Regions from separate parts of the Homo sapiens genome. Here region 1 is linked to region 2. The links come from fine-mapping of genetic effects on gene expression. A gene starts in region 2. The other region holds a variant in brackets. All regions are shown on one strand. Distances are from middle to middle. Region 1 has its middle 25 kb from the start of CD300LB. Region 2 holds the start of CD300LB (CD300 molecule like family member b).

Region 1 (15,452 bases), 23 kb before region 2:
TCACTTGAGGCCAGGAGTTTGAGACCAGCCTGGACAACATGGTGAAACCCCGTCTCTACTAAAAATACAAAAAGTTAGCCAGGCATGGTGGTGCATGCCTGTAATCCCAGCTACTCGTGAGGCTGAGGCAGGAGAATCGCTTGAGCCCAGGAGGCGGAGGTTGCAGTGAGCCAAGATCATGCCGCTGCACTCCAGCCTGGGTGACAGAGCGAGACTCCATCTCAAAAACAAACAATCAACAATAACAACAAAAAGAATAACATTAATTCAGAAAAGTGTGTATCGTTCCATATCCAGATGATGTCTCTTAACACACACACAAAAAGAAAAGTAAAAATTATTTAATTAGCCAGGCGCGGTGGCAAGCTCCCATAATCCCAGCTACTGGGGAGGCTGAGGCAGGAGAATTGCTTGCACCTGGGAGGCAGAGGTTGCAGTGAGCCGAGATCGCGCCATTGCACTCCAACCTGGGTGACAGAGCAAGACTCCATCTCAGGACAAAAAAAAAAAAAAATTTTAAACCCATGTGCAATGGACAGAAAATTAAAACAGTACAGGAAGTTATAAAATTAACAAAAAAGTCTCCTTCCTCCTACCCTACCCCTAGTACCATTCCACAAAAGTGACTACTGTTAGCCATTTCTTACACAGCTTTCAGAAAACTTATTATTATTTCAAAATTATTTTCAAAAGGGCTAATCCAGGCGCAGTGGTTCACATTTGTAATCCCAGCACTTTGGGAGGCCGAGGCAGGCGGATCACCTGAGGTCAGGAGTTCAAGACCAGCCTGGCCAACTTGGTGAAACCCTGTCTCTACTAAAAATACAAAATTAGCCAAGTGTGGTGACACACACCTGTAATCCCAGCTACTTGGGAGGCTGAGGAAGGAGAATCGCTTGAGCTCAGGAGGCAGAGGTTGCAGCGAGTCAAGATCGCGCCACTGCACTCCAGCATGGGCGACACAGCAAGACTCCATCTCCAAAAAAAGTGGGGGGAGGGGCTCATAATTCTTCATACCTCACTTTTGCATATGTCCTAGAGACCTTGTTATACAAGTACACACAAATCTACCTCATTCTTTTATATGTGATTCCACAGTTTTAATTCATTCCGTTATTTACTCATTTACTTGATGACTTTTATTGAATACCTACTATATACCATGGAGCTATACAGCAGAGACATAGCAGTGAAGAAGATAAATGAGGCCCCTTCTGTCTGGTCCTTGTATCTTAGTGGGCAGTAGACAGAACAAACAAAACAAAAGCAAGCTTCGTTCAGATCATCACAGAACTGCTGTGTGAAGATCTGAATTGTGTACAGCTGAGAGTGATGAGAGGCAGGAAGGGCTGCTTGCATAGGGAGGTCATGGAGGGACTTCCTGACATTTGAGCTGAGACTTGAGAAGGAGCCAGCCACACAATAATATAGAGTGAGAGCATTCCTGGCAGAGGAAACAGCTCAGGCAAAGGCTCTAAGGGGGAACAAGGCTAGTGTGTCCCAGGCTTAGGGTGCCGGCCAGATGAGTACAGAGTAGACAATGTGGGGAGCTTGGTGGGAGGCAGACGCAGAAAGGCAGAGGCAGGCAGTGGTCAGATCAGGGAAGGGTTAATACGCAAATGTGTGGATTTTGTCCTAAGTGGAAACTCTGAAAAATTTCAAGCAAGGGAGTCACACAATGGCACCTTGGAATGGGGTGGTGGATGTGGCCATTGGAGAAGGTGGACAAGCTCAGAATGCATTCTGGCCGTAGAGCCAACCCAACAGGCTGAAGGATTGGATGTGGGAGGGAGTGAAAAGAAAGGAATAAAAATTGCAGGTGACTTCTACGGTTTTCACTTGAGCAATTGGGAGGGCAGTAAAGGTGGGTCCCTTTACGGAAATGGAAAGACTAAGAGAGCAGCAGTTTTGGGGTGGAATTGGGGAGAGGAAACAGGGACTCTGTTGGGCGTACAGATGCTCAAATAAAGATGACAAGCCCCCTATTGGCTGTATGAGTCAGGCGCTGGGGGAGGGACTGGAGCTGTAGGTGCACAATGCATGCCGATGTATCTGTGTGTCATACAAGGCCCCATGTATGACTGCGTGTGTATACACATGCACAGATGCACACATTGTTATGTCATCCCAGACCATGTTTTTGTATTTTTGTACCTGTATCTTGGTATATATCTGAGTATATCTTTTTTTTTTTTTTTTTTTTTTTTTTTTGAGACAGAGTCTTGCTCTGTTGCCCAGGCTGGAGTGCAGTGGTGTGATCTTGGCTCACTGCAACCTCTGTCTCCCGGGTTCAAGCGATTCTTCTGCCTCAGCCTCCCAAGTAGCTGGGACTACAGGCGTGCACCACCACACCCAGCTAATTTTTGTATTTTTAGTAGAGATGGGGTTTCACCGTGTTGGCCAGGCTGGTCTCGATCTCCTGACCTCGTGATCTGCCCACTTCAGCCTCCCAAAGTGCTGGGATTACAGGCGTGAGCCACCACGCCTGGCCTATCTGAGTATATCTTTAGGAGAAATTTCCAATAGTGGAGCATTAGTCAAAAGGTCCATGAATTGACTTTTTTTTAATAGATCTTGACAAATTTTCCTTCAAAAAGCTCTTGCCCACTGTCATGCCAAGCGTCAGGTTCCAGCCCATGTTGAGGTCTGAGGGGAGTGGGTGGATGGGTGGCGAATAGCGGAAGGAATATTTAGGGGGCTGTAGGCAGGTAAAATATGGTTTTATTCAGCAGCTTTTTCATCAGCAGTTTTTTTTATATACTTTAAGTTCTAGGGTACATGTGTACAATGTGCAGGTTTGTTACATAGGTATATATGTGCCATGTTGGTTTGCTGCACCCATCAGCTCGTCATTTACACTAGGTATTTCTCCTAATGCTATCCCTCCCCCAGCCCCCCACCCCTTGACAGGCCCCGGTGTGTGATGTTCCCCACCCTGTGTCCAAGTGTTCTCATTGTTCGATTCCTACCTATGAGTGAGAACATTCGGTGTTTGGTTTTCTGTCCTTGTGATAGTTTCATCAGAAGCTTTCTCATACAATTCACCTTTATCTCGGCTGCCTGCTCCAGCTTTGCGGCTCTTGCCATTCCCAGGCTTACAGCTGCATTCCCTGGCCTACAAGCCTGGCTCTCCCTTATGGGGTCAGCAGTTTTACTCTCTGCCTCTGGGCACAAGCCATGCCGAACCACATGTACAGCGTCAGCAGGGCAGTTATACCTTTTACAGACAATAGTGGCTCTGAGCCACTTACACAAACAGATTACATAACAAGTGGAGTTATGCGCCTGCGCGCCAGACTCCCTGAGTCACGCTGGCCCTGATGTTTGCCTCTGCCTGTTTTGTTTTTGTTTTTGTTTTTGTTTTTTGAGACGGAGTTTCGCTCTGTCGCCCAGGCTGGAGTGCAATGGTGCAATCTCGGCTTACTGTAACCTCCGCCTCCCAGGTTCAAGCGATTCTCCTGCCTCAGCCTCCCGAGCCACCACACCCAGCTATTTTTTTTTTTTTTTTGTATTTATAGTAGAGATGGGGTTTCACCATGTTGGCCAGGCTGGTCTCAAACACCTGACCTCTGGTGATCCACCCGCCTCAGCCTCCCAAAGTGTTAGGATTGCAGGCGTGAGCCACCGCACCTGGCTAACCTATTCTTGACCAAAGCACATCCATGTACCTTACACCCACTTACCTTCCCATCAAGAACACTCAACGATGTCCCTTTCCCTACACTCTCGCCAGTATTGGATATTTTCACACTCTATTTTCTTTTCAATCTGATAGAAGAAAATAATATCTTATAATTTTCAGAATTTGCATTCCTTTATTTGCCATTTTAGTTTTTTTCCTGTGAACTATCCATTTGCCCATTTTGCCATTGAGCTTTTAATCTATCTTACTGAGTTCCTCCGAGTGCTTTGTAAATTAAGAAAATAAGCTCTCTGTCAAATTGCCTGCAACATTTCCTTCATAGCTTGTCATTTTTTAAAAAACTTTCAAAGGTGTTTTCACCCAGTGATGTTTCATCTTTTTTCTGAGGTCAGATTTCTCAATCATTTGCTTTATAAAGTTTGAGTTTTCCTTAGGATGCTCCATTTCAAGAGTCTAATAAATTCACCCATTATTCTAAAACTTTTGTAAATTTCATTTTATATTTTCAGTTTATTCTAAAACTTGCAGTTTTCAGTTTATTCTAAAACTTTTAAATAGTCTAAGACTTTAGAAAGATTTCAGTTTATTCTAAAACTTGTGTAGTTTCTTCGTATTTAAATCTTTGATCCATTTGAAACTATTTTGGCTTACAGAGTGCGGTATGAACAGAACTTGAGTTTGTATAAGACTTAGCCAGCTGTCTCTACATCACTGATTGAGTAACCCCTCGTGTCCCATGCATAGTCCTAGGCGCCACTGTGCTGGATCAGAAGCGAAGGGAGAAGGTTAAGTGACTCACTCAGTATTTGACCACAACACTGCTTAGCTCAAAAGTCCACCTTGCTGCCCCCTTTTAGTTAAAATGAGCCTGTTAGTGAGACCCTTGATTTTTTTAGCTTTTTTTATTTTTAGTTTTTCTGGGTCATAGTAGGTGTATATATTTATGAGGTGCCTCGGGAGCATTCTGGACCATCACAGACGCTTTGGGTAACTCTTACATTGGAGGGTAAGCCCATCCCCTTCTTAATCAATACGGAGGCTACCCACTCCACATTACCTTCTTTTCGAGGGCCTGTTTCCCTTGCCTCCATAACTGTTGTGGCTATTGACGACCAGGCTTCTAAACCTCTTAAAGCTCCCCAACTCTGGTGCCAACTTGGACAACATTCTTTTATGCACTCCTTTTTAGTTATCCCCACCTGCCCAGTTCCCTTATTAGGTGAGGCATTTTAACTAAATTGTCTGCTTCCCTGACTATTCCTGGGCTATAGCCACACCTCATTGCTGCCCTTTTCCCCAGTTTAAATCCTCCTTCGCATCATCCCCTTGTGTCTCCCTACCTTAATCCACAAGTATAGGACACCTCTACTCCCTCCTTGGTGACCGATCATGCACCCCTTACCATTCCATTAAAACCTAATCACCCTTACCCCGCTCAACACCAGTATCCCATCCCACAGCACACTTTAAAAGGATTAAAGCCTGTTATCACTGGCCTGCTACAGCATGGCCTTCTAAAGCCTATAAACTCTCCTTGCAATTCCTCCATTTTACCTGTCCAAAACCCGGAAAAGTCTTACAGGTTAGTTCAGGATCTGCACCTTATCAACCAAATTGTCTTGCCTATCCACACCGTGATGCCAAACCCATATACTCTCCTATCCTCAATACCTCCCTCCACAACCCATTATTCTGTTCTAGATAAATGTAGCTGACCCCATAGATCCTAAATCCTTTCCCCACTCCTCTTTCCATTCCTTAAAAAACTCATCCCAACCCTTTTCATTACACACAGCTGAAGTACAGGACTGTGTGGTCGGAATTCTTACACAAGAGCTGGAACCACGCCCTGTAGTCTTTCTGTCCAAACAACTTGACCTTACTGTTTTAGCCTAGCCCTCATGTCTGCGTGCAGCGGCTGCCACTGCTTTAATATTTTAGAGGCCCTCAAAATCACAAACTATGCTCAACTCACTCCGTACAGTTCTCATAACTTCCAAAATCTATTTTCTTCCTCCCACCTGATGCATATACTTTCTGCCCTCCGGCTCCTTTGGCTATACTCACTCTTTGTTGAGTCTCCCACAGTTACCATTGTTCCTGGCCCAGACTTCAATCCAGCCTCCCACATTATTCTGGATACCACACCTGACCCCCATGACTCTATCTCTCTGATCCACCTGACATTTATTCCATTTCCCCATCTTTCCTTCTTTCCTATTCCTCACCCTGATCACACTTGGTTTATTGATGGCAGTTCCACCAGGCCTAATCACCACTCATCAGCAAAGGCAGGCTATGCTATAGTATCTTCCACATCTATCATTGAGGCTACTGCTCTGCCCTGCTCCACTCCCTCTCAGCAAGGCGAACTCATTGCCTTAACTCAGGCCCTCACTCTTGCAAAGGGACTACGCGTCAATATTTATACTGACTCTAAATATGCCTTCCATATCCTGCACCACCATGCTGTTACATGGGCAGAAAGAAATTTCCTCACTACACAAGAGTCCTCCATTATTAATGTGTCCTTAATAAAACCTCTTCTTAAAGCTGCTTTACTTTCAAAGGAAGCTGGAGTCATTCGCTGCAAGGGCCATCAAAAGGCATCAGATCCCATTGCTCAGGGCAACTCTTATGCTGATAAGGTAGCTAAAGAGGCAGCTAGTTTTCCAACTTCTGTCCCTGATGGCCAGTTTTTCTCCTCATTGGTCACTCCTATTTACTGTCCCACTGAAGTTTCCACCTATCAATCCCTCTCCACTCAAGGCAGATGGTTTTTAGACAAAAAAAAAATCTCCTTCAAGCCTCACTAGCCCATTCTATTCCTGTCGTCATTTCATAACCTCTTCCATGTAGGTTACAAGCCATTAGCCCGCCTCTTAAAAACTCTCATTTCCTTTCCATTGTGAAAATCTATCCCCAATCCACCACTCTTGACTCCCTCTTGGAGTGGGTAGATGATCTTTGCTGACAGGACACACTCCAATACTCTCACCCTTATGAAGTCCTGTTCTTTACTTTTATACTCACTCTTATTCTTGTTCCCGTTCTTATGCCACCCTCTCTACCTCTTCGCAGCTATCTCCACCACACTATCAATCTCACTCACTCTCTCCTAGCTGTTTCTAATCCTTCTTTAACAAACAATTGCTGGCTTTACATTTCTCTTTCCTCCAAAATCAATGAGGCCCCGACTTACTCACTGCTAAAAAAAGGGGGACTCTGTATATTTTTAAATGAACAGTGTTGTTTTTACCTAAATCAGTCTGGCCTGGTATATGACAACATAAAAAAACTCAAGGATAGAGCCCAAAAACTCACTAACCAAGCAAATAATTGCGTTGATCCCCCTTGGACACTGTCTAATTGGATGTCCTGGGTACTCCCAATTCTTAGTTCTTTAATACCTATTTTTCTCCTTCTTTTATTCGGACCTTGTGTCTTCCATTTAGCTTCTCAATTCATACAAAACACATACAGTCCATCACCAATCATTCTGTGCAACAAATCCTACTTCTAACAACCCCACAATATCACCCCTTACCCCAAAATCTTTCTTCAGTTTAATCTCTCCCACTCTAGGTTCCCATGCTGCCCCTAATCCCACTCTAAGCATCCCTGAGAAACATCGCCCATTATCTCTCCATACTACCCCCCAAAATTTTCGCCACCCCAACACTTCACCACTATTTTGTTTTGTTTTTCTTATTAATATAAGAAGACAGGAATGTCAGGCCTCTGAGCCCAAGCTAAGCCATCATGTCCCCTGTGACCTGCACATATACATCCAGATGGCCTGAAGCAACTGAAGATCCACAAAAGAAGTGAAAATAGCCTTAACTGATGACATTCCACCATTGTGATTTGTTCCTGCCCCACCCTAACTGATACGCTATATTCTCCCCTGCCCTTAAGAAG[G/A]TACTTTGTAATATTCTCCCCGCCCTTGAGAATGTACTTTTTATGCCTATCCCAAACCTGTAAGAACTAATGATAATCCCACCACCCTTTGCTGACTCATTTTTTGGACTCAGCCTGCCTGCATCCAGATGAAATAAACAACCTTGTTGCTCACACAAAGCCTGTTTGGTGGTCTCTTCACATGGACGTGTGTGACAATCTCATTGAGTTTTGAGTTGCATTTCTCTGATGATCAATGATGTTGAGCACGTTTTCATATACCTGTTTGCCTTTTGTAGATCTTCTTTGAAAGATGTCTATCAGATCTTTTGCCCATTTTTTAATTAGATTATTATATTTTTTCCTACTGTGTTATTTGGGCTCCTTACATATTCTGGTTATTAATCCCTTGTCAAATGGGTGTTTGCAAATATTTTCTCCCATTCTGTGGATTGTTGCTTCATTTTGGTGATTGTTTCTTTTGCTGTACAGAAGCTTTTTAACTTGATGTGATCCCATTTGCCCATTTTTGCTTAGGTTGCCTGTGCTTGTGGAGTATTACTCAAGAAATATTTTCCAAGTCCAATGTTCTGGAGAATTTCCTCAGTATTTTCTTTTAGTAGTTTCACAGTTTGAGATCTTAGATTTAAGTATTTAATCCCCACCCCCTTTTTTTTGTGAGACAAGGTCTGGCTTTATCGCCCTGTCTGCAGTACAGTACCATGATCTCAGTTCACTGCAACCTCTATCTCCCAGGCTCAAGCCATCCTCCCACCTCAGTCTCCCCAGTTCCTGGGACTACAGGCACATACACCATGCCCAGCTGTTTTTTGGGGTTTTTTTTGTTTGTTTGTTTTAGATGGGGTTTTGCCATGTTGTCCAGGCTGGCCTTGAACTCATGAGTTCAGGTGATCTGCCTGCCTTGGCCTCCTAAAGTGTTGGGATTACAGGCATGAGCCACCACACCCGGCCTCTTTAATCCATTTTGTATATGGTGAAAAACAGAAGGGTCTGGTTTCATTCTTCTGCATATGGATATACCATTTTCCCAGCATGATTTACTGAGGAGACTGTCCTTTCCCCAGTGAATGTTCTTGGCACTTTTGTCAAAAATGAGCTTAGTGTAGATATGTAGATTTATTCTTGGGTTCTTCATTCTGTTCCATTGTTCTATGTGTGTTTTCATGCCAGTACCATGCTGTTGTGGTTACCATATCTCTGTAGTATAATTTGAAGTCAGGTAATGTGATTTCTCCAGTTTTGTTCTTTTTGCTCTGGTTGACTTTTGCTATTCTGGGTATTTTGTGGTTCCATATAAACATTAGAATTATTTATTCTATTTCTGTGAAAAATGTCTAATATTTTTATAGGAATTGCATTGAATCTGTAGATTACTTTGGGTAGTATGGACATTTTAGCGATGTTGGTTCTTTCAATGCATTAACATGGAATATCTTTCCATTTTTTTGTATCCTCTTCAATTTCTTGCATCAGTGCTTTAGAGTTTTCATTGTAGAGATCGTTCACTTCTTCACATTTATTCCTAGGTATTTTATTTTATTTATAGCTATTGTAAATGAGATTACTTTCTTGATTTCTTTTTCAGGTTGTTCATTGTTGGCATACAGAAATGCAAATGATTTTTGTGTGTTGATTTTGTGTCCTGCAACTTTACTGAATGTGTTGATCAGTTCTAATAGCTTTTTGGTGGAGTTTTAGGTTTTTCCAAATATAAGATCATATCTGCAAACAAGGATAATTTGACGTCTTCCTTTCCAATTCAGATGCCTTTATTTATTTATCTTGTCCAATTGCTCTAGCTAGGACTTCCAGTACTATGTTGAATAACAGTGGTAAAAGTGAGCATCCTTGTCTTGTTCCAGATCTTAGAGTAAAGGATTTCAATTTTTGCCCATTCTGTATGATACTAACTGTGGGTCTGTCATATATGGCTTTTATTATGTTGAGGTATCTTCCTTCTATACCCAGTTTTTTGAGGGTTTTTCTAAATCATGAAGGGATGTGGAATTTTATCAAATACCTCTTCAGCATCAATGGAAATGATTGTGTGGCTTTTGTCCTTCACTCTGTTGATATGATGTATCACACTGATTTGCATATGCTGAATCATACTTGCATCCTTGGGATAAATCCCACTTGGTTATGATAAATGATGTTTTCAATGTGTTGTTGAATTTGTTTTGCTAACATTTTGCTGAGAATTTTTGCATCAGTATTCATCACAGATGTTGGCCTGTACTTTTGGTTTTTTTTTTTTTTTTTTTTTTTTTTGATATGACTTTGTCTGGTTTGGGTGTCAGGGTAATACTGGCCTTGTTGAATGAGTTTGGAAGTATTCCCTCATCCTCTATTTTCCAGAATAGTTTGAGTAGGATTGGTATTAGTTCTTTAAATGTTTGGTAAAATTCAACAGGGAAGCCATTGAGTCCCAGGCTTTTCTTTGCTCAGAGACTTTTTGTCATGGCATCCTGTTACTTGTTACTGGTCTATTAAGGTTTTGGATTTCTTCATGGTTCAATCTTGGTAGATTGTATGTGTTTAGGAATGTATCCACTTCTAGGTTTTCCAATTTATTGGCATATAGCTGCTCATAGTAGCCTCTAATGATCCTTTTAATTTGTTGATATCAATTGTAATGTCTCCTTTTTCATCTCTGACTTTATTTATTTGGGTCTTCTCTATTTTTTTCTTTTTTAGTCAGGCTAAAGACTTGCCAATTTTGTTTATCTTTTCAACAAAATGACTTTTAGTTTCATTGATCTTTTGTATTTCCTTCATTTCCATTTCATTTATTTTAGTTTCATTGATCTTTTGCATTTGCATTTTCTTCATTTCAATTTCATTTATTTCTGCCCTGATCTTTATTATTTCTTTATTTCTACTAATTTTGGGTTTGCTTCACTCTTGCATTTCTAGTTCTTTAAGATGCATCATTAGGTTGTTTATTTGAGGTTTTTCTACTTTTTTTGATGTAGATACTCAATACTGCTTTCACTGTATCCCATAGATTTTATTGTGTTGTGTTTCCATTTTCATTTGTTTCAAGAAATTTTTAAATTTCCTTCTTACTTTTTTTCATTAACCCACTAGTTATTCAGGGGCATATTGTTTAATTTCCATGTTTTGTATAGTTTTCAAAATTCTTCTTGTTATTGATTTCTAGTTTTATTCTTTGTGGTCACTGAAGACACTTGATATGATTTCAATTATTTTGAATATTTCAAGACCTGTTTTGTGGCCTAACATATGGTCTATCCTTGAGAATGATCCATGTGCTGAGGAGAAGACTGTGTATCTGCAGCTGCTGAATGAAATGTTCTTTTAAATATCTATTAGGTCCATTTGGTCTATAGTACAGATTAAGTCCAACGTTTCTTTGTTGATTTTCTGTCTGGATGCACTGTCCAATGCTGAAAGTGTAGTGTAGAAGTCTCCAGCAATTATTGTATTGAGGATATATTATTTTAGCTATAAAGATATTTGCAATATATATCTGAGTGCTCCACTGTTGGGTGCATATATACTTACAATTGCTATATCCTCTTGTTGAATTGATTTCTTTATTATTATATAATGTTCTTCTTTGTCTCTTTTTATAGTTTTGTCTTAAAATCTATGTAATGTGATATAAGTATAGCTATTCATACTCTTTTTTGGTTTCCATTTGCATGAAATATCTTTTTCGATTCCTTTAATTCACCTATTTATGTCTTTATAGGTGAAGTGTGTTTCTTGTAGGCAACAGATCTTGGGTCTAGTTTTTCTTTTTAATCCATTCAGCTGCTCCATGTCTTTTGACTGAAGTGTTTAGTCCATTTACATTCAATGTTATTATTGATAACTAAAGACTACTCCTGCCCTTTTGTTACTTGTTTACTGGTTGTTTTCTGGCCTTCTCTTCCTTCCTTCTTTCTTTTCTTCTTGTCTTCTTTTTACTGAAGCTGATTTTGTCTGGTGATATGTATTAATTTCTTACTTTTTATTTTTTGTGTATCTGTTGTATGTGTATGTTTTTGAGTTGATATTACCATGAGGCTTGGAAATAATATCTTATAACTCATTATTTTAAGCTGATGACAACTTAACACTGATTGTAATAACAAGCTAACAAACAAGCAAATATAAGGCTAATAGAAAAAAACTCTACACTTGAACTTCATCCCCCCACTTTTTAATTTTTTGTTGTTTCTATTGATACCTTATTATACTCTCAATGTCTTAAATGTTGCTTTAGGCTGGGTGCGGTGGCTCACACCAGTAATCTCAGCACTTTTGGAAGCCAAGGTGGGCAGATCACTGGAGCCCAAGAGTTCAAGACCAGCCTGGGCAACATGGCAAAAACTTGTCCCTCCTAAAAATACAAAAAATAGCCGGGTGTAGTGGTGTGCACCTGTAGTCCCAGCTACTCAGGAGGCTGAGGTGGGAGGATCACTTGAGCCAGGGAGGCAGAAGTTGCAGTGAGCCAAGGTCATGTCACTACACTCCAGGCCTGGACAACAAAGTAAGACCCCATCTCAAAAAAAAAAAGCATAGTTATTATTTTTTATATATTTTATAGGTTCTTCTTTTAGTCTTTCTACTCAAGATATAAGTGATTTACACACAATTTCAGGGGTTAGAATCTGTTTTTCTGTGTACTTACTATTAATAGTGAGATTTGTACCTTCAGATGATTTCTTACTGCTCATTAACATCCTTTTCTTTAAGATTGAAGAACTCCCTTTAGCCTTTAGCACTTCTTTCTTTTTTTATTTTTATTTATTTATTTGTTTTAAGATGGAGAGTCTCACTCTGTCACCCAGGCTGGAGTGCATGGCACAATCTCAGCTCACTGCAAACTCTGCCTCCCGGGTTCAAGTGATTCTCGAGCCTCAGCCTCCCAAGTAGCTGGGATTACAGTCATGCACCACCATGCCCTGCTAATTGTTGTATTTTTAGTGGAGACAGGTTTCACCATGTTGTCCAGGTTGGTCTCAAACTCCTGACCTCAAGTCCCTTTAGCATTTCTTATAGGACAGGTCTAGTGTTGATAAAATTGCTCAACTTTTGTTTGTCTGAGAAAGTATTTCTCCTTCATGTTTGAAGGGTATTTTCACTAGATATACTATTCTACGATAAAAGTTTTTTCCTTCAACACTTAAATACCACTCTCTCCCAGCCTGTAAGATTTCCCTCAAGAAGCCTACTGCCAGAAGTTTTGGAGCTCCCTTTTATGTTACTTATTTCTCTTCTCTTTCTGTTTTTAGGACCCTTTTTTTTATCCTTGACTTTTGGGAGTTTTTTTATTAAGTGTCTTGAGATAGTCTTATTTGGGTTAAATCTGCTTGGTTTCTGGAACCTTCTGGTATTTGAACACTGATATCTTTATCTAGGTTTGGGAAGTTCTCTGTAATTATCCCGTTGATAAAACTTTCTATCCTGATCTGTCTCTACCTTCTCTTAAGGCCAGTAACGCTTAGATTTGCCCTTTTGAGACTATTTTCTAGATCTTATAGGCATGTTTCATTCTTTCTCATTCTTTTTCTTTTGTCTCCTCTGACTCTGTATTTTCAAATAACCTGTCTTCAAGCTCAGTAATTCTTTCTTTGGCTTGGTCAATTCTGCTGTTAGGAGATTCTGATGCATTCTTTGGTGTGTCTATTTCATTTTTCAGCTCTGGAATTTCTGCTTAATTCTTTTTTATTATTTTGATCTCTTCATTAAATTTATGTGATAGGATTCTGAATTCCTTCTCTGAGTTATCTTGGATTTCACTGAGCTTCCTCAAAACAGCTATTTTGAATTCTCTGTCTGAAAGGTCCCTGTTTCTCCAGGATTGGTCCCTGGTGCCTTATTTGGTTGTTTGCTGAGGACATGTTTTCCTGAATTGTCTGACTGGCCCTGTGGCCTGAGTCACATTTCAGCTGAAGTCCCAGGCTGCTGCCAACACCTCCATGGCCTGGCAGTCTTCCACTGGAGTTCAAGTTACACTGCTCACCAGAGAATCACACGCATTCAGTGTGTGGACTCCATCCTCACAATCAGATGCTCAGTGTCCAAAATGCTGGGTAAGAAACATCCTGAAGAACACAAATCTGAGATACAGCCTCTTCCAGGCCTGCTCCAAGGCTCCAGACCAATGCATGAAGCACAGCCTGAGTCCACGTGCCTGAGGGAACAGACCTCCAAAGCCTACATTGGGAGCTTCCACCTGGCAAGGAAGGTGTGCTAAGGGCAGAGCTTCCGGCCTCCCTGTTATCTCAAATGTGGACCTATCACTGGGGCCCTAGTACTGGGCCCAATACTTGCCTCCACCCTTTGTCAATGCGAACATCCTTCCTCCTGGGGACAGAGATTTAGAGGTTGACTTTAGAAAAAGCCACTCTCTATAGATATTTTGAAGCAGCAAGTCCCCCCAGCTTCAAATTTTGTGCTGGCTGAGGCAGCCCAGCCTGGTTGGTGACTAGAATGGCCTGAACTGGGAGTCATGGAAACTGACTCAGAGTCATGGAAAGTTGGGGCTGAAAGGGGAAGAAGAGGTCATGCACCATCCGTCTTGCAGCTATAAAAACTAAGGTTTAGGTTGGTGAGGGGGTGTACCCGAAGGATGACTCAAAGGGTACTTCACGGGTAAAGGAACTCAGCTCAAATAAGGTGACTCAAGTCTATTTACAGCCTTGTCCAGTGTGGACTCAAGAATAGCCTGGCCTACCACCCTGAGCTGTCAGGGAGGACAGATGAGATGGACATTGTGAAAATGGGGTACTGCCAGCCTTTAAAATGCGGCGAGTGCACAAGTCACGCAGTGCTGTTATCAACTCATGATATAAGTTCCTCTTCCCTCCCCCGACTGCCTGTGTTGAGTCTCAAATTCATCCCACTGCAGGGAGGTCAGAAAAAGTTCAGAACTTCTTTCTGACCTCCCTCTTGTGGGATTTAATGAGGACATGAAGTGGTGACATTGAGGTGGGAGTTAAGGAGAATGTGCTGGGCTTGGGGCCCAGCAGATGGACATATGTTACCTGTGCCCCTGGGGATGATTCTACCTTCTAAAATGGGCCATGGAAACCTGGTTTCATGTGGTTGGGTCAATCCCCCCAGTGCTTCTGAGGTTGATGAGTTAAACGATGCAAAGGCCATGGTTGGGAGATCTCCTCTTGGGATACGACTTTGGTGAATTTACCTGGGTCTGGTCCTCATTCCTGCAAATCTAGAACCCGACCACCATCCAGACAAGAAGAGAGACTGAGACCCTACAATAACTCAAGTGATTTATTTTGGGGACACTCCTTTCCAGGAAGCTGAATGCTTGTGACCCTCATCTGTTTTTCTGATTTCAGCTGCCTGGGAGGTTGCCTGAGCAGGCAGGAGGCAGCTCATGGGCATGGACTTGAACTGATGCCTCGAATGGCCTGCCTGGCCTTTGTCTTTCTTTATGTTCCATTACCAAATATTCTGCTCCTGGAATCACAGCCTTTGTTTTTATTTATTTATTTATTTATTTATTTATTTATTATTTTAAATGTTTTATAGAGATGGGGGGTCTTGCCAGTACAGGCTGGTCTCAAATTCCTGGGCTCAAGCAAACATCCTGCCTCAGCCTCCCAAAATGCTGGGATTACACAACAATGCCCTAAAATAAGACTTTCAGGTGAAGCTTATGCATGTCTTTCCTGCTTGGTGAGTAGGGTATGATTAGAGTTGGATTTTTCCATCCCATATTCACTCTACAGAATCAATTTAGTGTTCTGCTTATCTATGGGACATTGATGTCATGTGATGGGTGATGTCATGTGATGGGTGATGTCATGTGATGGGTGATGTCATGTGATGTGTGATGTCATGTGATGGGTGATGTCATGTGATGCATGATGTCATGTGATGGGTGATGTCATGTGATGGGTGATGC
Region 2 (15,452 bases):
GGAAGAGGTGGGAGGGGGAGGACAAGCACCGGGCCGGGCCAGGGAGGTTCCCATTGCCTCCTCAGCCCTGTGGACTCAGAGCCATGTCCTCCCTGGGGACAGGGTCCATCCAGCCCCTCATGCCCTAGAACCAGGAACTCATCCCAGAATCACCCTCCTTGTGTGTGGGATCAGAGAGGTTTCCTATGAACATAAGTCATTAAAACCCAACTTTGCTAGAAAAAAAAAAATTTAAAAACACGGATATATCAGGTTCTCAGGCAAAGACGGTGTTGAGTTGGTCTCCGGAATGATGGAAGTCTAGGGCTGGGGGGGTCTCCCCCAACCTCTTTCTGTACTTTGGTCCCATGCTCTGTGCCCGAGTTATTCCAGCAGTGGGGACAGAGTCGTCCAGTGCTTGAGCTCCATCTCTACAGCTCCTGACCAAGAGAACAGGTGCTGGCACCCCAGGAGGTGATGGTGGCTCAGGAGAGGACCTGGCTAAGTCCCTGAGCTGTGCAGAACAGGGAGGTGCCCACCAGCTCCAAGGCCAGGGCGGAGGCCCAGGGCCCCTATCTCAGTCACTGCATCCCGAGGACTCGTAGATGTTCCTTCCACAGCCCGAGTCTCTTCTGGAAACGTGGCCAGGGCAGGAAGGCTCTGCAGATCCATCTCTCTAAGTGGCCATGTCTTTAGTCAGAGGTTCGGAGAAGTTCATGTAGATAGGCTGTTCCCCTGGCTCCTCAGGGACCCTCTGAGACCCCTTCAACCAGAGGATGGCAGTGACCAAGATGAGCAAGATGGGCACCTTCACAAATACCAGGAGCATGTAGTGGTTCCTGGGGAAGGGGATGCAGTGGTCAGAGCCCTGGGCATCCCCAGGCCATGTCACTCCCATCCCCTGACCCTGTGAGCCACCAGCCAAAGCCTGTGACCCTGGGCCGGGCAGCCCCACTCTGAAGATTCCTGTAAACCTCCTCCTTGGTTCAACCTCAAGGGGTCCTCCAACAGTCACCTTGGCTGGTTTTGCACGGGGCCCATCTTCCTTTCTAACATCACCTTCTGGGACCCTCTTTGCCCAAAGTACATCTCAGCTCAACAGAAGCGCCAGAGGTCACCAAATACAGGTTGTGTTTCCTGCCTCTGTTCCTGCTAATGCTAGCTCCAGGCTGGTAAATCACCCTTCCTGTTCTGTGTCCCTTGATGTCTTGCACCACAGAGGGTGGTATCTTATCTCCCCCTGGCACCCATTAGGCCACCAATGCAAGGTTGACTGATTGACTGGGAGAATGATGCTCACTGAGAAGAGTTCTGCAGAGCGGTTTTCTGGTGAGAGCTAGAGTGGGGAGATGGTGGATTGCAGTGATGGGGGCAGGAGAGAGATGGAGGGTGGGCTTGGGGCCTTGACTCTGGCTAGAACAGGTGCTGGCATTTGGTGACAGGCAGGAGTTCCCAGGCTTGGCTTCCCCTTAGGAGGGACCCCAGGTAGGGGCAGGAGAAAGAACCACATGACTCACCTCTTGTGGGAGCCGATGAACACTGCCATATTGCTGTTGGTAGGTGAGCTTGCTGTTGTGGAAGCCGCTCCCTCTAGACACAGGCAAAGTCAGCCATGGGTTATTAGCACAGTTGGGAGCTCATGCATGGGTCACAAAGCCACGCGACCCTGCCAGCCCTCACCAGAAGACCCTTTTCCCTGGAGTAGGAGGATTTTTCTCTCCTGCTACAGCCCCTCATGCTTCTACTGAGTCACTTCAATCTCAACACACAGACATTTTTCCTCATCATGTTCAGATGTGGCAAGAAAAATTAAAAATTAAACAGGAGTAAACACTGTAGTTTATTCTGGGAGAGAGAGGTTTTTTCATACTTTCTTTCCACCTATCCTGCAAGTGGGACTATTGGATGGGGAAATAAATTTCTGGTCTTTTCCACTGGAGTGGTGCCTGAGCAGGGCTTAAGGAGAGAAGATTCTGGAAATGGGCTGTCCAGAAATTGGGGTAGTCCAGAAAAAGGGAAAGGGGACTCCAGAAGGCTCATGAAGAAAAGGGCACACTCCAGTTAACTAGAGAACATCGACTATGAGAAACGGAACATTTTTAGGAGCAACCATATAGGCAATTTGTTGGGGGCAGTCTGGTCAGGGGGGCCCTGAGCCCAGCCCAGCACTGAGTATCCATGACCCAACAGTGATCTTTTATTTCAGTCCTCGGCCCCAGCAAATTTTTCTCAAAGGTCCCAGGCTGTCCAGGCACGGTGGTTCACGCCTGTAATCCCAGCACTTTGGAAGACCAAGGGAGGCAGATCGCTTGAGGCCAGGAGTTTGAAACCAGCCTGGGCAACATGGTGAAATCCCATCTCTACAAAAAATACAAAATGAACCAGGCGTGGTCATGTGCCCCTGTAGTCCCAGCTACTCAGGAAGCTGAAGTGGAAGGATTGATTGAGCCCAGGAGGTCGAGGCTGCAGTGAGTCAAGTTCACCCCACTGCACTCCAGCCTGGGCTACAGACTGAAACCCTGTCTCAAAAAACAAACAAAACAAAATAAAACAAAACAAAACAAAAAAGTCCCAGGCTTTGGCCACACTAGGTGGGCTCCTGTCTGAGCTGCAGGTAATTCCAATCACAACAGTTCCTATGGAGCCCCTGATCGTTTTACAGGCTGGTACCCCTGTAGATCCCCCACCCAAGACTCCGGAACATCTCTCTCCCTAAAGCTCCACACTGGCCACTGTTTTTTGTCTCTTTGTACCGCCTGCATGTCTTGCTCAATCCCCTCTCTGCCCCCATAGATATTCTGGGTTTCCCCTACTTGGCAGCCCTGGGGAAGTCTTGCTTGACCCTTTCTGGACTCCTCTTTACTCAGCTGCAGCCACTGTGTCCATGTGCCTCTTTGGTCCCAACCCCAACAGTACACAGGCTTGTTCTAAAGCCGGCATTGTCTATTTCCACATCACCACCAAATGGACCCGAGTGGACACTGAGCTGATGAAGTACTGAGTAGGGGTGTGCGGGTGGAAGTGGGGGTTGGGGGCTGCTTCCCAGACTCCAGCAACAGCAGCAGGATGACCCCAGAGTCTATCAGTAGAGTCCAAGGCATGGAGGAGAAGCCAGGGCACCCAGAGTGGTCCCTGACGTTGCCCGTGATGGAAGCCATCCTTTTGCTTTAAAGCGTCCACTGTCACCCATGCACCTCCCTGGGGCTTTCTTACCCCGTGCTCATCTTACACAGCCAGATAAAGTAGCGGAGCAGGTGGCTGGGGACCTAGAGAGGAGGGTGTTGTAAGACACCCAGAGCTACTCTGGGTTGGTGCAGTTAGTGGGACTCAATACTAGGACCCCCTGGGCAGCTCTAGGTTCCTTCTCTGCCATGTCATGAGCAGGGCTGGGCCACCAGTCACCAAAGCTGAGGTCCCCATTCCCACCCCCATCCCAAGCCCCACCTGGATTCCTTGGAGAGACCTCAGGGACTGAGATAGCAGAGCGATGCTGGCCACCACTCTCCCTTAGTTTCTGTCACCTCCTTCCCAGTCAGTTTGTCTGCCTGTCTGTCTGTCTGTCTCTCTCTCTCTCTCTCTTAGGCTCACCATCATTCCCTTTCAGCCTTGGAGGGGAGCAGGTAAGAGCACTGACTTTCCCAGCCCTGAGCTCCAGGGCCTCCTTGTGTAGATGAGAAAGTTCTTACCTGGGTCAACGATCACTTTCACTTGAGTCCCAAGGTCAGGTCCTCTTCTTTCAATCCCACACCAGTAAACATCTGCGTCATCTCGCCTGAGCCCCTCCATGGTCACAGTGAACGTGCGGTCTTTCTGATTGTCCTTGATGGACACACGGTCACTCTTCTCTCCTTGCTCCGACCCTCTGGTTTCAATGAGGATCTTGCATGTATCCCAGCGCACCCCTCGGCACCACCACTTAATGTAGGTCTCCCATCCTTGCTTATAGTGGCATTGAACCGTCAGGGACCCCTGCTCTGGGGCTCTCACAGACTCTGGGCCTTGGATGGAGAAACAGCCTGGAAAACAGAATCCCAAGATACAGCTCATTGCACCGGCACGAACCCCTGCTCTGGGGCTCTCACGGACTCTGGGCCTTGGATGGAGAAACAGCCTGGAAAACAAAATCCCAAGATACAGCTCCTGTTGCCTGAGCCAGTTTGGTGTTTAAGAGTCCCGAGTGTGTCTCTAGCACACCCGATTCCTCATCCCCATCTCCCTCTCAGTCCATTCCCCCACCAGCTTCTAGACCTGCTTAGCATGTGACACCATGGTCTCCTACCACCTTCTTTCCTTGTCCTCTCAATGCTGTTTTCATCGGAGCCAAATATTTAACAACCAGCCCTCTGGGGGAAAAAATCTCTGGTTTAGGAGCTGGGCACGGTGGCTCACACTTGTAATCCCAGCACTTTGGGAAGCCAAGGTGGGCAGATCACCTGAGGTCAGGAGTTCGAGACCTGCATGGCCAACATGGTGAAACCCAGTCTTTACTAAAAATACAAAAATTAGCTGGGCGTGGTGGCAGTCACCTGTAGTCTCAGCTATGCGGGAGGCTGAAGCATGAAAATTGCTTGAACCCGGGAGGCGGAGGTTGCAGTGAGCTGAGATCGCACCACTGCACTCCAGCCTAGGCAACAGAGTGAGACTCTTGTCTAGAAAAAGAAAAAGAAAAAAAATCTGGTTTTAATATTTGCCAAATTCCATAGTGTAAATACTCCCACGGTGGCAGATGTCAGGTAATCCATGTGATGTCACTGGACACAGAGCTGGGAAAAGATGTCCCAAGCCAGCTCCTGTGAGCCAGCCCCAGCACACTGCGGGGGTACCCAGGGTTCCCTCTCCAGCCTTCATCTTGTCTCACCTGACAAGCCTCCATGGAGGGAGTCTCTCCATTTCCATGGCTTTAATGATTACCTGTTTCCTGATGATTCCCAAATCCATATTTGCAGCTCAGACTCCCCTTAGCTAGCCCACCATTTACAAAGACACACTGGATGTCTCCACCCCAGATTCCTTCGTTGCAGAATTGAATGCACTTCCTCTCCCACCCTGAACTACTCTTCTTCAGTATTTTTTTCTAGTGGAGCAATTGGATGTGGCAAGAGTAACAAAGGCCTGGTGAAAGCTGAACAGGTTAGAGGTGAGCATAATCAAATGGCAGTCCGTGCCTCCGCTGATTGACTCCAGTTAGGCTGTGTGTAGATAGGCTCTTTCCTTGGCAATGACACGGGTTTCTTGATCACGCAGAAGTGGATAAACAGGCAGAGAATCACAGGGGAAGCCTCTCTTGACTGTCTCTTGGCCTCAGAGCTTCAGGCCCAGGCCAGGGGTCTCTGCAGGGTGGAGAAAGCCAGGTCTATTTCTCCAGGCAGATGCCGCCTCCTCACAGCTTGGGCCTTCTCCTTGAAGCTGTGTTAGTTTTCTTGAACTTTGCATTCGTGGTTGGTAGAATAATGTCCCCCATAGCTGTTGGCATCCTCATACACAGAACCTGCGAATATGTCCCCTGACATGGCCAGAGGGACTCTGCCGATGTGATGAAGTTAAGGACCTTGAGACAGGAAGAATATCCCGAATAATCTCCATGGATATTCTAAGTGAAAGAGGGTTGAGGGAGAGTCCAATTGGAAGATGGTCTGTTGCTGCTTTGAAGTGGAAGAAGAGGCCACCGGCCAAGGAAAGCAGATGGCTTCTAGAAGCTGGAAAATGCAGGGAAACAGATTCTCCCCTAGAATAGGGGTTCCCAACCCCAGGACAACAGACTAGTAACAGCCCATGGCCTGTTAGGAACCGGACCTTACAGCAGGAGGTGAGCGGTGGGCAAGCAAGCGAAGCTTCATCTGTATTTACAGCCACTCCCCGTTGTTCAAACTACCACCTGATCTCCGCCTCCCATCAGACCAGCGGCCGCATTAGATTCTCATAGAAGTGAGAACCCTATTGTGAACTTCGTGTGTGAGGGATCTAGATTGCACACACTTTATGAGACTCTAATGCCTGATGATGTGTCACTGTCTCCCATCACCCCCAGATGGGATCATCTAGTTGCAGGTAAACAAGCTTAGGGCTCCCACTGATTCTACATTATGGTGCAGTGTATAATCATTTCATTATATATTATAATATAATAGTAATATAAAGTATACAATAAGTGTAATGCGTTTGAATCATCCCAAACCATCCTCACCCCACTCCTGATGTGGAAAAATTGTCTTCCACAAAACCGGATCCTGGTGCCAAAAAGGTTGGGGACCACTGCTCTAAAGAAACCCAACCCTACTTGCACCTCAATTTTAACCAGTAAGACCACGCCAGGCTCTGGTCTTCAGAAGCATCAATGAGATGATGAAATTGTGCAGTTCTAAGCCATAGAGTTCATGTTAATTTGTTACAGCAGCCACTGGAAATTCACATGGCATTCAATCAGCAGAACCAACTTGATTCTCTTCAAACCAGCAGCTCCACCACCCAGCCTTCAGGAAGAGCTTGGCATCTTCTTTCATGCTGTCCTCTCCTTCAGCCCCCGAGCTGATTGGTAGCCAGTTTAGTCAGCTCTATCCTAGAGATGCTCCTCAGTTTTTTTTTTTCTTCTTTCAGTCTCTGCCATCGCAGGCCACAAGGACAGCATGACATCAGAGAGAGTGTGAGCTTTGATGCAGAAAGACTTGACACTGAACTAGTTGGGAAACCCTGGCAGAGTTGCTTAACCTCTGCAAGTATCGCTTCCTTATTCATAAGACAGTCATGCTACGCTCTACTTTGAAGGTGGTAATAGGACTTGGATGTGTGTAGGCTGGGCAAGGTGGCTCATGCCTGTAATTCCAAAGCTGTGGGAGGCTGAGGCAGGAGGATCGCTTGAGCCCAGGAGTTCCAGACTAACCTGGGCAACATGGTGAAACCCTGTGTCTGCAAATGCAAAAGATTAGCCAGGAGTGGTGGTGCATGCCTGTGGTCCCCACTGCTTGGGGGGCTGAGGTGGGAGGATCGCCTGAGCCTGAGAGTTCAAGGCTGCAGTGAGTTATAATCGCCCACCACTGCACTTCAGCCTGGGTGACAGAGTGAGACACTGTCTTCAAAAAATTATTTATTTTTAAATTTAAAAGAAGACTTGGATGTATGTCCAACGCCAGACATTTGGGGTTTGCTCTGTCAGTGACAGCTCATCAACAGGTCAGAACTTCATCTGTGCCTGGATCATGGCAGTGGCATCTGGAGAGGTCTTCCCAGCCCCAGCAGCATCCTCCCCAACTCTCCTCTCCTGAGGATTATGGCCTTCATAATCTTGTCTTTTGTGTTTCCAACCTCATATCCAACTCGCCACCCCCAAGATGTCCTGCACACTGACAGCTCCCTCAGCTTTCCTCTCCATACTGCTGCCTGAGTTGGGTACTGAGACTGTCTCCTCCTCCTCATCAGCTGCACTTGCCCTGAGCATCTAAAAGTCTTTTCGGGGCCGGGCACGGTGGCTCATGCCTGTATTCCCGCACTTTGGGAGGCCAAGGTGGGTGGATCACCTGAGGTCAGGAGTTCAAGACCAACCTCACCAACATGGTGAAATCCTGTCTCTACTAAAATTACAAAAATTAGCCAGGCATGGTGGCAGGCACCTTAATCCCAGCTTCTTGGGAGACTGAGGCAGAAGAATCACTCGAACCTGGGAGGCGGAGGTTGCAGTGAGCCAAGGTTGCACCACTGCACTCCAACCTGGGTGACAGAGTGAAACTCCGTCTCAAAAACAAAAAACAAAAACAAAAACAAAATACCCAAAAACATAAATTGGATTTGTCAGCAATCACTAACAGCAGAAAAGAGATGCTGCTGCATTGAACAAAGTGTCATCAATCCCAGCTTCAGTCATTCAAACTGTAAATGGCTCACGATGTAATTAGTCCCGTTTAAAAAAATATTTGGGGGTTTCTCTAACCACAGAATATGATGGCTGGAACTATTAATCAGGCTTCTATATGTTGTCAAGAGTTGGTATGAGGAACGATAGAGATGGAAATGACAGGGCAGCCGTCAGCTTGGAGCAGAGCCCCGTTGAACGGGCTGAAGGGTGGAAGTCCAGCCAGGACTGGAGTCGGGTCTCAGAACTCCCCAGCCATGCTCTTTCCTGTTGTCCCTCCGTGGACTGCTCTATCTGTGCCAGATGGTCAGTCCCTAGGCACCAGCAGAAAACTGTGTGGCCCACACACATTGCACACCCTGCGTAAAATTCTAGATTGTCCCCTAATGCCCTCTAGGTGTCCACCAAGGTTTGCCATGGAGAAGATCATCTAGCCCTTCCCACTTTCCACCTGGGTTCTTGAGAAGTTTTTTCTTTGAAAGTCTCAGCTCCTGAGCCTGGCGTGGATGGCCTTCATAATCTTGTCTTTTGTGTTTCCAACCTCATATCCAACTCGCCACCTCCAAGACATCCTGCACACTGACAGCTCCCTCTGCATGAATCCACCATTCTTTCTAAGCCTCCATCTCTCTGCCCAGGTCCCCCAACACACACACACACACACACACACACACACACACACACACACCCAACTCTCTAGAGTGTTCTCCTCTCAGCTCTGCTCCAGAGACTGACCTTCCTTCTACAAGGCACATCAAGTGCACAGCTTCGTGAGTCTTTCTCTAGTCACCAGAGAGAACTGCTTCATCCTCCGCACACGCCTCCACCAATGCCTTATTGTGTCCTGCAATTGCTCATTGTTTATGTGTATGTCTCACCCACTAAGCCATCTGGAGTCTTTTTACTTTATTTTTTTTTTGAGACAAGGTCCCACTGTATCACCCAGGCTGGAGTGCTGTGGTGCGATCATAACTCTGCAGAATTGAATACCTGAGCTCAAAGGATCCTCCAGCTTCAGCCTCCCAAGTAGCTGGGACTACAGGCACGGTCACCACGCCCAGCTAATTTTTGTTCATTTTATATAGAGACGAGGTCTCACCATGTTGCCCAAACTGGTCTTAAACGCCTGGACTCAAGCAATCCTCCCACCTTGGCCTCCCAAAGTGTTAGGATTATAGGTGTGAGCCATGGCCTCAAGCCTGGAGTCTTCTTTAATGGCCAGTTCTCCTCCTCTTTTTTCTTGATGTCCTCAGGCCCCGAAGCACACGATGTCAGTCCCCAGTGCACCTTTGTCGAATGACTTCACAAAGCCACCTCTCATTTCCCTGGATGTGGAAGGACAAATGCCCTCTGCCTCCTGCCCTGCCCCTGTCATACCAAGCGCCCAAGGCCCCAGCCCCACTCACCTGAGAGGCTGAGAAGGAGCAGAGCAGGGGGCAGCCACATGGCTCTGCCTTCCCGGCTCCTCGTCCGCCTGATCTGCAACCAGTGGCAAATGCAGATCCCAGATGCACTCTGGAAGTTCTGCCTGAGCTCTGGCTTGCACCTTCTGCACATCTAGACCGCCTTTGACTTTCTTACTCATTCACTTCCTTTTATAGAGTGGGTAGTTCCTGCTTTTAATTATTAAACGAAAGAGGTGTCATTTTTTGGCAGGGCTGCGCCACAGGGCTTAAGCATCGTCACTATGTAAAAAAGAGGAGGGAGGGGACTGTGCAGGGTCTTTAGGGTAGGGGGAGATACGTCTGCAGAAGGGGTGGGGTGGGGGGCGTCTGGCCTAGCAGGCCTTGGGTCCAAGGGGTATAACACTCTGGGAGTCAATTTCAGAGCTGTTCTATACCACAGTGAACACCCAACTCAGATGTCGGATGGGTCATGCTGGGCACACCTGAACATGCATTTGTTCAGGTGTTATAGCCAAGTGCATAAACATGCAGACTGTTGGGTCAGACAGACCTGGCTCTAACCCCACGAGCACCACCTACAAGCTGCGTGACTGTGGACAATGCAATCAACATCTCTGTGCCTCAGTTATTGTATCTATTAACTGGGCTCATAATGTTTGTTGTTGTTATAGGAGTTATTAAGAAATTATTTTAGGTAGATAGGAAAAGGGGTGCTTGGGAAGATTTTTTTTTCTTTTAAAGCAGCTCCATAAATGTTTCTTGTCTAGAAGAAAAGCCCTGGCTCTTAGAGCTGGGCAGGCAAGCTTTGATATGCAAATACAGGCCATTAGAAACTGCGTCCACCCAAACATGGAGACTCCCGCCTCTTCTTCTTTTCCCCACGTTCCTGGCAACATGGCCGCCCCTACATACACCCATGTGTGTAGAACATCATGGCGCCTGTATTTGCATATTAAAAGGCTAGGGTAGGAAGGCTAGTTTTTTCGTGGGCTACTTGAATGACATACCTGGTCAAACCAATCCCCTGGGCCCTATGCAAATCAGGTACCGCCTCCTCCAGCCTCCTCATATAACTGGCTGTTTTCCACCGTACTCGAGGTTCCCTCTTTCAGCTTGGAGCCCGCCTCCCTCAGTCTCAGAACAGGGGGAGCCTCTTCCTTCCTTCTTTCTTGTCTATTAAATTCTCCACTCCTTAAAACCACTCCACGTGTGCCCATGTTGTTTTATTCAAACCAGTGGGAGACCAAGGACCCTAGTGTTCCTCCAGTCATCAGAGCCATACCATTTTGTTGCATTGGCCGGGAATCCAAGGTACGACACTCATCGGAGTGGTAAGTATGGGAGTGAGCTTAAAATCTCTTCTATCATTCCGAGGCACTCTTAGCCTCTATTTTAAAATAAAATAAGTCAATGGGCATCCGTCAGCCGGGTACATACACTTAGTGTTGGCTGCCATACTGAAGACTCGAATGTGAGGCTTGCTGCTGAGAACACGGAGAACCCCCCAACACCCCTGGGTCATTGGGAATGTTGGCCATGTTTTAAATCAGCTTCTTTTCACGGGAAGACCTCGCCATTGTGCAAGGCTGGGAAAAGTTCTAAGGCAACTAACAATTTCTGGCCAGAGCACACCCTGGCATGATTCAAAGGCCCCTGGACTGGACCCAGCCTCTGGCGGCCCATTCTGGGTGTTGGCAAAGAATCCTCAACTATCTTGTCACAAAACTCTCCTTCCTTCTCTATCTGCGGTCTCTTACACTTTCTTTGTGTGAAATGTGTAGCGAGTTTTACAGCCTAGGAAAGTAATCCTGTTAGGCAAAATCAGGAAGATGCCCTTGCAATCTTCTAGGAACAGAGTTCTCCCCTTTCTCCCACCGTGAGGTTACTCACTACCACGTCTCTAGTGAGCACATAGTATTTCTAAGCCAACAGTGCCACCTAGTAGAAATAGAAATCCTCTACATAAAGCATATTTTTTCATGGCAAACCGCAGCTTCTTTTTGCATGATTAGAAATCAGGCTCGGCCAGGCGCGGTGGCTCATGCCTGTAATCCCAGCACTTTGGGAGGCCGAGGCGGGCAGATCATGAGGTCGGGAGATCGAGACCATCCTGGCTAACACAGTGAAACCCCGTCTCTACTAAAAATACAAAAAAAAATTAGCCAGGCGTGGTGGCGGGCGCCTGTAGTCCCAGCTACTCGGGAGGCTGAGGCAGGAGAATGGCGTGAACCCGGCAGGCAGAGCTTGCAGTGAGCCGAGATCGCGCCACTGCACTCCAGCCTGGGCAACAGAGCAAGACTCGGTCTCAAAAAAAAGAAAAGAAAAGAAAAGGAAAGAGAGAGAGAGAGAGAAAGAAAGAACAAGAAAAGAAAAAAGAAAAAGAAATCAGGCTCTAGGCCTCTTCTTGAAATGGGAAAGTTCTGCCTTTAGCAGTTAGGAGTTAAGAAGTCTTCCATAGCCAAATTTTAGTCTCAATATTGTCCCATTGGCAGGAAAATGGCCATTCGGTTCCTACATTCCTTTAAGGCACCTATTCTGTCTCCGATTAAGATGGTACTTAATTAGTAAGGGGATTTTTAAGTCCAGAAGTTAACCAGAACCATTTTTCTAAGGGTAAATGCTTTAGCACAGGCCATAATAATAGCAAGATATAAAGTTCAATCTAGCACGCCCCCTCCCTTAAAGAGGCTTTGCCCAATTATGTAGTTTTTCTTTTTTTTTCTTTTCTTTTCTTTCCTTTTTTTTTTTTTTTTTTTTTTTTTTGAGATGGAGTCTTGCTCTTGCCACCCAGGCTGGATTGCAGTGGTATGATCTCAGCTCACTGCAACCTCCACCTCCCGGGTTCAAGTGATTCTCCTGCCTCATCCTCCCAAGTTGCTGGAATTACAGGTGCCCGCTACCATGTGTGGCTAATTTTTGTATTTTTAGTGGAGACAGGGTTTCACCATGTTGGCCAGGCTGGTCTTGAACTCCTGACCTCAGGTGATCCACCCACCTTGCCCTCCCAAAGTGCTAGAATTACAGACATAAGTCACCACACCTGGCCCGTAGTTTTTCTTAAAATCGTTGTTTTTTTGTTTTGTTTTTTAGGGAAGCACACAGGTCACACAGGAGGTCAAAAAGAAATAAAAGACTAAGGTGCTTGTGGAAGTGTAAGTGGGCCCAGAAGTCTAGTTTCTCTGGTGCCATGGCTTGGAGGGTCACGCCTGCAGTCATGGCCAGCACATTTAAATGGGTGCCAGGATCCAGGAACCAGGGAAAGAAAATAGTTGGGGGAACGCCCCCTACTGTGTTCTCCATCCTGGATCACATACTGAAAGGAAGGAGACTAAAATAATGCTTTTATTCTCACTTCTCTTTCTAGATGGGTAACAGATCGTCTTCTCTGCACTCCAACCTGGGTGACAGAATGAGGCTTCATCTAAAAAAATTAATATAATGAATCACATTAATAGAATAAAGAAGAAAACCCACATAATCATGTAAACGCACAAAAACCACTATCTGAAATCCATTACTTTTCATGATAAACTAGGAATTAAAAGGTGCCTATAAGCAACCCATTACAACCCATGGCAAAATCTTTCCTTTAGAATCAGGAAGAGGACAAGATTGCTCAAAATCACTACTTTGATTCAACACTTTGATTAGCCTGCACAATACAACAAGAAAGAGAAACAAAAGACATGAGAATTAGAAAGAAAAACAAAGCTCTAAATTATTCTAGATTAATTGATTATCTACATATAAAACTGAAAACAATTACTAAGATTTTTTGCAGAGTTGCTAAATATATATAATCAGTAAGGATCAATTGTTTATCTACATGCATGCAATGAATAACTTGAAAATGCAATAAAAGATGCCACAAAATGGGGCGGGGCGCGGTGGCTCATGCCTGTAATCCCAGCACTTTGGGAGGCTGAGGCAGATGGATCACGAGGTCATCAGTTCAAGACCAGCCTGACCAACATGGTGAAACCCCGTCTTCACTAAAAATACAAAAAAATTAACTGGGCATGGTGGCAGGCACCTGTAATCCCAGCAACTTGGGAGGCTGAGGCAGGAGAATCACTTGAAACCAGAAGGCGGAGGTTGCAGTGAGCCGAGATTGCACCACTGCACTCTAGCCTGGGCAATAAGAGCAAAACTCTGTCTCAAAAAAAAAAAAAAAAAAAGCCACAAAATAAGAATAAAAACATAAAATATCCAGAATTACACTTAACAAATATATGAGCAAATATCAAGGAGAAAATAATAGAATGTTATTAAAAGACATTTTAAAAGCTCATAAATAATTAGAATTACATACCATGTTCATAGACAGAGAAATTATTATAAAGATAAATTTCATACATTTACATTTAAAGTCTCAACATAATTTTTTTTCTTTTTTAGTACGTTGACTGGTTAATTCTAAAATTTCTGCAGAAGAGGAAATGGCCAATATTTGCAAAGACATTCCCAATATCAAAGAACAATGTATAGTGACATGACTTACCAGATAACAAGACATTTAAATACAGCTATAGTAATTAAAACAATGTTGTCTTGGTTCCAAAATAAGCAATTAGGCAAATTCAACATAATAGAGTGGTTAGAAAAAGGTCCAAGCAGACATAGAAATAAACACCTGCCAGGGGTTGCATTGCAGATTGCTGGGAAAATGTGGATAATGCTTATCCAAATGGAAGACAGAAAAATGGATTATTATCTCAGCCTAGAAACAAAATCATTTAGAAATGGGTCAAGGACTTACCTGTGAAAGGGAATATTTAAAAAATTTTAGAAGAAGATATAGGATAATTTTTTTTTAATTTGGGAGTATCCATAATTGGTTAAGCAAGATGAAAGTATAAACCATTAAGGAAAATGAATAATTTGTACATTAAAGTGAAAATCCTGTTTCTCAAAAGATATCATAAAGCCAATAGCCCAGGAAAGTATATGTGGAGCACCAGTAACTAACAAAAGACTTGCAAAGAACTTCTACCAATTGGATCATGAGGTCAGGAGATCGAGACCATCCTGGCTAACATGGTGAAACCCCGTCTCTACTAAAAATTCAAAAAATTAGCAGGACGTGGTGGTGGGCGCCTATAATCCCAGCTACTCGGGAGGCTGAGGCAGGAGAATGGCATGAACCCAGGAGGCGGAGCTTGCAGTGAGCCGAGATCACGCCACTGCACTCCAGCCTGGGCAACAGAGCGAGACTCCGTCTCAAAAAAAAAAAAAAAAAAAGAACACAGACAAACAACAGAAAGTAGATGAAGATTAGAAGAGGCATTTCTCAAAAGAGAAAATTCAGATAACCAAAAAACACATGAGCATGAGTTTAACATTAGTAAGCAGAGAAATTCAAATTAAAACAATGAGATACCATTTCATACCCATTAACTTGAACAAATTTAGAAAGTCTGATAAGATTCAAGCAGGAGCACTGCTGATAAGAAGCAAAAATTGGTGCAGTTACTTTGGAAAATAATTTGCGCTTGCCTAGTAGAGCTGATTACACACATGCAGCAAAACCTAGCAATTATTCCCTTAGAACTCTACTCTAGGAGACACTTTTGGACAGACAAAATTAGGATATATGTTCATAATAACGTTATAAGTAATGGCAACACAAAAAGAAGAGAAGGAAGAAAAGGAGGAGGAGGAAGAGAAAAAAGAAGAGGAGGAGGACCAAGAGGTAGGAAGAGCAGGAGGAAGAGGAGGAAAAAAAGAGGGAGGAAAAGAAAAAAGAAGAAAAGGAGGAGGAGGAGGAGAAGTAGGCAGAAGAGTAGGCAGAAAAGAGTAGAAAGAGGAGAAAGGAGGGACAAGAGGAGGAGGAAGAGGAAGGGGAAGACGAGAGAGAAAGGATAGAGAAAGAGAAGGAGGAAAATAAGAAGAGCACAAAAAAGAGAAAGAAAAGAAACAACCTAAATGCCTGTTTAAGAAAGAGGGATGTGCGAGTTATGGTATGCTCATACAACAGAATGTAGACCAATACAAAGAAGTGACACATCAGTGCGTCAACACATCAACATGGATGAATCTCAAAAATAAAGTGTTGAATGGTCCAGGCACTGTGGCTCACACCTGTAATCCCAGCACTTTCGGAGGCTGAGGCGGATGGATCACGAGGTCAGGAGATGGTAAAACCCCTCTCTACTAAAAATACAAAAATTTAGCCGGACATGGTGGCACATGCCTGTAGTCCCAGCTACTCAGGAGGCAGAGGT

Evidence for each region.
Region 1: its variant is fine-mapped to the expression of CD300LB in whole blood (TOPMed, PIP above 0.99).

Annotation. Positions count from the first base shown.
Region 1 is chr17:74,498,660-74,514,111 of GRCh38, forward strand. No RefSeq gene overlaps it. Among named protein-coding and RNA genes, the nearest start is that of CD300LB, 25 kb to the right of the region's middle. RefSeq lists an enhancer at 13,808-14,057. The variant G/A (reference allele first, on the strand shown) is at 7,565.
Region 2 is chr17:74,522,083-74,537,534 of GRCh38, forward strand. CD300LB (CD300 molecule like family member b) reads right to left here and starts at 9,393. Exons shown (of 4, transcript NM_174892.4): 1 at 9,229-9,393; 2 at 3,666-3,995; 3 at 1,497-1,569; 4 at 1-818. The coding sequence starts at 9,268. The coding sequence ends at 656. LOC107985074 (a long non-coding RNA gene) reads left to right here. Exons shown (of 3, transcript XR_007065902.1): 2 at 10,465-10,559; 3 at 12,593-12,797. It also overlaps a transcript of CD300C not described here. RefSeq lists an enhancer at 6,443-6,512.